Homo sapiens: one gene and its partner. The protein of the gene in region 1 purifies or fractionates together with the protein of each later gene. This does not show direct contact. Each region holds a gene or a part of one and is shown in the gene's direction. Other genes may lie near its edges. The genes, in order: NRDE2 and VPS50.

Evidence for each region.
Region 2: the proteins of NRDE2 (region 1) and VPS50 purify together in Homo sapiens (co-immunoprecipitation; one large-scale study listed by IntAct). This does not show direct contact.

Annotation. Positions count from the first base shown.
Region 1 is NC_000014.9:90,304,346-90,308,169, reverse strand, and holds part of NRDE2 (nuclear exosome regulator NRDE2), read left to right. Parts: intron 1-3,787; coding exon 3,788-3,824. UniProt on the Homo sapiens protein: Protein of the nuclear speckles that regulates RNA degradation and export from the nucleus through its interaction with MTREX an essential factor directing various RNAs to exosomal degradation.
Region 2 is NC_000007.14:93,235,106-93,238,929, forward strand, and holds part of VPS50 (syndetin), read left to right. Parts: intron 1-3,824.

The DNA of each region.
Region 1 (3,824 bases):
ATACACCAGATAAAATAGTTGGCTTATGTTTAGGAGCCAACTTTGATAAAAATAATAATTTAAACTTATCTAACCCTTACTATATGGCAGACACTCTTCTAAGGACTTATGTAAACATTTTTGGCCAAGTGCAGTGACCCACACCTGTAGTCCCAGCACTTTGGGAGGTCAAGACAGGAGGATCGCTTCAGGCCAGGGGTTCAAGACAAGGCTGAGCAACATAGTGAGGCTGCATCTCTACAAAAAATAAGCTGAGTGTGGTGGCATGTGCCTGAAGTCCCAGCTATTCAGGAGGCTGAAGTGGGAGGACTGCTGAAGGATTTTGAGGCTGCAGTGAGCTATATTGCATAACTGCAGTGAGCTATATTGCATCATTGCATCCTGGGTAACAGAGGGAAACCCTACAAATTTTTCTGTAGTTGGGTGCAGTGGCTCACACCTGTAATCCCTGTATTTTTAGTAGAGATGGGGTTTCACCGTGTTAGCCAGTATGGTCTCAATCTCCTGACCTTGTGATCCGCCCACCTTGGCCTCCCAAAGTGCTGAGGCGGGCGGATCGCTTGAGGTCAGGAGTTCAAGAGCAGCCTGGCTAAATTTTGTATTTTTAGTAGAGATGGGGTTTCACCATGTTGGCCAGGCTGGTGTCAAATTCCTGGCCTTAATTGATCCACCCACCTCGGCCTCTCAAAGTGCTGGGATTACAGATGTGAGCCACCACGCCTGGCCGTTAGTTGATTATTTGATAAGGATTTTATAGCAAAAGTGCCTTCATTTAGGGAAACATTGTGTTAAATTATAGCCTAGGTCCTGTATAATTATTAAGATCTCATGCTAAGTGATAAATTGGATATAACCTAAATGTCTAATGATTGGGAAATGGTTAAATAAATTATGGCACATCCATACAATGGAACAGTTTGAAGTCAATACAAATTATATTTTCTAAGATTAATGGTATGAGGAGATGCTTTAAAGTAGGAAGGCAGGCCTGAAACTATGTGATATCAACTATTTTGAAAAAGGATGTATGTGCACACACATATATATACATACTGAAACACATATAGTGTCTGAAAGTAGATAGTAATATAGGCCAGTAACATTTTTCCCCTTCCCTTATCATTTTCATCTAATTTGTTATAAAAATGCAGCTGTTAGTTTAAAGTCAGGAAACAGTAAACATTTTTCAAGAGATTTTATGAATATCTAAAATACTGTATATTTTTTGTGAGACTAATGAGGAATCAATACTATTAAAAGAGGATAAAGGAGAACAAAACTAGCTTTTTAACTTAAAGTTTGTTCCTTAGGGAATGGCAGCCTTGTTTAGAACTACATTAGTGCTATTTTTTTTTTTTTTGAGACCAAGTCTCACTCTGTTGCCCAGGCTGGAGAGCAGTGGCTTGAGCCCGGCTCACTGCAACCTCTGCCTCCTGGGTTCAAGTGATTCTCCTGCCTCAGCCTCCCAAGTAGCTGGGATTACAGTCGTGTGCCACCACGCCCAGCTAATTTTGTATAGTTAGTAGAGACGGGGTTTCACCATGTTAGCCAGACCGATCTCAAACTCCCGACCTCTGGTGATCCACCCGCCTCAGCCTCCCAAAGTGCTGGGATTACAGGCATAAGCCACCACACCCGGCCTACATTAGTGCTATTTTATCTCATCACACCTTTGTTAAGGTTGTTTTTGACTCATAAATGGAATGGCAAGAGACTGTCATGAGATAGTCTGAAAGAATTGGGAGGGAGGCTAGATAAAAGGTTTGAGAGAGAATATTTATGTCTGTGTGAGAAAATAGTCCCCTACAGTGGAATTTGCTGTGTTTGGTCAGTGAGGAGGGCAGAGGCACTTAGAGAGGGGACCTGTTGACCGCAGAGAAGCCACAGAGGTGAGGGAGAGAGCCCGGCCCTGAACCAAGGTGAAGTGGAGCGGAGCTTCCTGGGAGCTGACAGAAGATGAAGGCAGTTCTCCCCTGCCTTTTTCTCCCCACGGCATTTCCGGTTTTATTAGGAAAAAATTTTAATATACAGCAAAAGTTGAAAGATTTTTACAGTGAATGCTCGTATAACTGCCCCCTACATCTACCATTAACTTTGTATCCATTAAGTTTGTATTGTACTTGTTTTGTCATATGTGTCCATCCATCAGCCCATCCTATTTTTTTGATGCATTTCAAAGTAAACTGCAGATCAATAAACAACCCCCTAAATACTTCAGCATGTGTATTATTAACTAGAGGTCAATATTTATTTAGTTTTATTCCTTTAATTGAAAATTTACATGCAATGTAATGCACAAAGCTTCATTCTCACCCGAACCTCTGTTAAAATGTGAAATATTACTCTGACCGCCAGAAGTTTCCTCGTGCTCTTTTCTGGTAAGTCTGTACCCCATTCTCCCAGAGGCAATCACCGTTCTTACTTGTTTCCACCCTCAATTCGTTTTTACCTGTTCTAAAATGCATGTAAGTGGAATTATACAGTGTGTACTCTTTTGTATCTGGCTTCTGGCTTCTTTCACTCAGTGTAATGTTTTTGAGATCATCCGTCCATAAGGCACTTACCAGTAGCTCCTTTTTACTGCTGGTAGTATTCCATTGTATGGCTGTACCTCTGTTTACTTATCCATCTTCTATTGATGGACACGTGGACTCTTTCAGTGTTTGGCTGTTAGGAATAAAGCTGCCGAGAGCATTTGTGCTCATGTCTTTGTGTAGACATGTGCTTTCCTTTTTCTTGGGTAAATATGTAGGAATAGAATTGCTGGGTCATAGGTTAGGTCTGTGTTGAATTTTTTAAGAAACAGCCAGATCTTTTCCCAAAGTGATTATACCAGTTTACATTCCCGCTGACAGCGGATGAGAGTCCTGGTTACTCCACAGGTTACTCACCAACATTTGGTGTTGTCAGCCTTTTAAATATTAACACTGTTCTAGTTGGTGTGTGGGGTACCTCATTGTGGTTTTAATTTGCATGTCCTTGTTGACTAAGGATGTTGAGTTGTTTTTTTTTTTATGTGCTTATTGGCTATTCATGTCTTCTTTTGTGGAATTTCAGTTCAGATCTTTTGCCCGTTTTTAAAATTGAATTGTTTGCTAACATACATACAGAAAAATGTACAATTTTCCTTAGCTTTTGCCTGTGCAAATATTCAGTAGTCATGTGTTTGTTAACTCTGGGGACGCCTACATGTTCCATAAAAGCGTTTTAGAACCCAACCTCTTTTCCTCTAGAGTAGAAAATAACCAAATGTAATTTCATTTGACATACTTTGTTTCAGGATTAAAAAAAGAATCTTAGGCCTATATGTTATCTTCTTAAGTAGGGACACAGGAAAATATTGAGAAAACAGGACTGGTCTAGGAAACAGATGATCCAGGTTCCCAGGCCTCAGTGTCCTTATTTAGGAACAGTTAAGAGAAGGGATGATAATTTTTGCCTTGCCTGTCACATATGGCTGTGATGATCAAATGACATAATGTGTGTGACAGTTCTTTACAAGGCTCCAGGAAAATAGAAATTACTAAGATCTAGAAGACAGGCATGATCTTAAATTCATGAGATGTTAAAGAAGAGTTGAAGTGTTATAGGAAGAAGTCAAGCCAGGCAGAAAGAAAGTTAATTACTAGTCCTTGTGTATCTCCAAATAGAAACAATCTGAAGGTGAGGTGAATTTGGTTATATGCAGTGAACCTGCATAACGAGAGTTTAGGTCTAATGCGCCTTTAGTCATTCAGAGGTAGTACACGTATTCCCTCAGTAACTTTTTTTCTTTTTCTAATATCAGATACAAGAGGAAAGGAGACTCCTGCCTTGGCATTAAC
Region 2 (3,824 bases), on another chromosome or scaffold:
GGGGGTGAGGAAGTGAACTCTGTGAGGTAGATATTTGGGAAGGAGCATTTCCAGTGGAAGGAAAGGCAAATGCAGAGGTCCTGAGGCAGGAGCTTGTTTGAGAAATTGCAAGTGGCCTGTGTGGGTGAAGTGAGTGAGGAGAAGAGTAGTGGGAGATGAGGTTAGGATGAGGTTAGATGACTGAAGGCAGGAAGCTAGATCATGTAGTACCTTATAGGTAATAGCAAGGTCATGGCTTTCATTCTGAGTGAAATGGCAAATAGAGGAATGATATAATTGGACATAACACTTCAGACAGACCATTTGGACCCATGTTTTAAGAACAGATTGAAGAGCGGAAAAGAGCAAAACCAGGGGAGGTGAATGATGAGGCTACTGTGGTAATCCAGGTGAGAGGGTGGGTGTAAGCCTTCCACCCTAGTGGTGGAAGTGTTGAAAGAGGTCAGACTGTGAATATGCTGTAAATGTAGAGGTGACAGAATTTCCTGACAGATTGGGTTTGGGCTGTGAGGGAAAGAGAAGCATCAAGGATGACTCAAAATAGTTTGGCCCTAGCAATTGGAAGAATGTAATTGCCATTTCCTCGGATGGATAAAACTGAGGGAGGAACAGATTGAGGGAAGGGACATGGTTTTTGGACTTGTTAATTTGAAAGCCTCTTAAATATTCAACTGGAGAGATACAGCAGGCAGTTGGCCAGATGAATCTGAATTTATGGGGCGAATCCAGGGTATAGCTGAAACTCTGGGAGTTACAAACATGTAGATTGCATATAAACTGGTTAAGATCACCAGTGGAATGAGTGTAGATATACAAAGAATCTAAGGTTGGAGCTTTTGAGAATCCAGTGTTAAAAACTCAGGGGGAAGTGGTGGATCTAGGAAAGCAGAATGAGAACATGCAGCTTGTGAGGTAAGAAGTCTTTAGCTTCCTGAATGGCACCTGGAATATAGCAGATGCTCAATAAATATTTGTTGCATGAATGTGGGATGAAGAGAACAACCAAGAAGACTGCCTTGAAGCCAAGTAAAGAATTTAAAAGAGTAAGGAGTGATTAGCTGTGTTAAATGCTGCAGATTGGTCAAGTAAGGTGAGAGTGAGAATGAGAAATGTGCTTTTGGATTGAGCAGCGTGGAGGTCCTTGGTGCCCCAACTACAGCAGTTTTCATGAAGTTGTGGGGAGGAAAGCCTGATTAGAGTGGGTTCAGGAGAAAATAGGGGGAGAGAAATTAGGGACTGGGTGTAAACACTCTTGAGTTTTGCCGAAAGGAGAAGGAAACACAAATCATCACAGATGCTTCTTTGGATGGATAAGACATAGTTGCTGGTTTCGTAAATGGAAAATGAGGATTAATGTAGACATAACTGAAGTAGTCTGAAGTGTTAATCTGATTTGGGTAAATGAAGAGGCGAGTGTTAATTTATGCTGAATTTTCTATATGTCTAAACTGGGGAATTATCAACACAAACATCAAATACAAAAGAAAATCAAATAGTGGTTAATGATAGCATCAAAGTGTTAATAAAGGCAGAGAACTGTAGTTAAAACCATGACTTCATGCTTTAGAGAGATGAAGATAAAATAAGAATGACTTCATTTGTTAGTAGAAGTTTATAAAACTGATAAAGTGTTAAAAATCTGTAATTCTAAAGTACAGTTGAATGTCAGATGTGCTTTGAGACATTTATGTAATTCTTCATTTCTGTTTTGATAAAAGGAAAGCATTTCTGTCATAATAAAAATATTAAGAATTATGGTTAATCATCACAGAATGCTTGAGATATATGAGACAGTATTTTTGGCTTCTCACATACATGACCTCTTTTACTTCTTTTTTTTTTTTTTTTTTTTTTTTTTTTTTTTCGAGACAGTCTCACTCTGTCGCCCAGGCTGGAGTGCAGTGGAGCGATCTCGGCTCACTGCAAGCTCCGCCTCCCGGGTTCATGCCATTCGCCTGCCTCAGCCTCTCAAGTAGCTGGGACTACAGACGCCCGCCACCACGCCCGGCTAATTTTTTTTTTTTGTATTTTTAGTAGAGACGGGGTTTCACTGTGTTAGCCAGGATAGTCTCCATCTCCTGACCTCGTGATCCGCCCGCCTCGGCCTCCCAAAGTGCTGGGATTACAGGCGTGAGCCACCACGCCCGGCCTGTTTTACTTCTTATAATAGCCTATGAATGATCATAGAATATAATGCACAGAAAGGATAGATAAGTTGTTCAAAACCACAGCAAGAAAGTCAGGATACAAACTCAAGTGGTCTGCTCCAGAGCCCATTGCTATAATCACTTCACTCTACATCCTCCTAACATGTACACGGGTTTTCAATTTGTATTACTTTTATTTTGTACATTTGGCAGAAATTTGCCGTGTATTGGTATTGAATTGTTGTGTGGTGACTACTTTTTCTAGATATTGGTATATATCACGTTTACATTTCAGGCATTGGTTTCTTTACGGACTAGCTCTGGGGAAAGAGAAATTAAATATGATATATTTCTTCAGGGATTTCTGTTAGATTAGTTAAGCAAATCTATACAGATGGTCCCCGATTTACTATGGTTTCACTTAATGAATTTTTGAGTTTATGATGGTTTTATTGAGATTATTAAATGTATTTTCCACTTATAATGGGTTTAAAAATTTTTTTTATTTTTAGTTCAAGGGTACCTATGCAAGTTTGTTCTATAGGTAAACTCGTGTCACAGGGGTTTGTTGTACAGATTATTTTGTCACCCAAGTATTAAGCCTGGTACCCAATAGTTATTTTCCTGATCCTCTCTCTCCTCCTACCCTCTACCCTCAGGCAGTCTCAGTGTCTGTTTTCTTCTGTATGTTTCCATATGTTCTCATATGATGGGTTTATTGGAACATAACCCAATTGTAAGTCGAGGAGCATGTGTACTTTGAAAAATGTTTGTTTAAAAGACATGGCAATTACATTTTAAAAATATATTTTAGGGGTGGTCATGATTTTGAATCAAATTGGGAAGTTTTACTTTCATGTGTGCATATATAATGTATATAGAAGTGTAGTTTGGTAACTCAGCCTTGCCTTCTTTACCAGTTTTGATGCTATTCCCTCATGACTGTTGGTGAGAATTCGAGACAGGGAAGAACAAACCGCCCAAGACTAGTAACATACTATTTTTCTCCCTCACTCATTGAAAGGCATATTAAACCTCCTTAGGCCTTTTTTTTTTTTCCAGCGAGCATTCCTAGAAATTTTTTTGCAGTCAATTACATGTTCCCATGGGAACAATGCGCTAATTTGTGGGAGATTGGAGCCTGACCAATGACTTCTACCTAATAATTTACTCATTTCTTTGTTGTTTACTCTGTTTCTGGAACTTTGCTAGCCACTGGGCTGCAGAGGCAAATAGGACTTTGTCTCTCCCTTTCCTTAGGACTTAAAGTTTGGAAGAGAAAGATATATTTAAAATTTAAAACTTTACTACTTTGGCTGAGGTATTGTCTTGGAAGATGTCTTACTGAGGTATTGTTTTGGGAAAATGCACATTCCTGGCCCAAATCTAGAAAAACCTATTCATTAGGTTTATTTTAGGGCCTAGGAATCTTACTTTTAACAAGTTCCCTGGGTGGTGTTGATGGACATGATCCAAGGGTTATACTGAGAAATACTGTGTTCTTTGGAGCATAGGGATTTAGGAAGACTTTGTAGAGGAGATAATTCTGAAAGTGATGTATTGCTTTCTCATTTCTTGGAGTGGTAAGTGTGCCTGAGAGAGGGAGACGGGGAGAGAAGGGTGGGTAGGTTAGATATTCTGGGGGTAATGGAAAACTTGCGGTTGAGGCAGAGCACT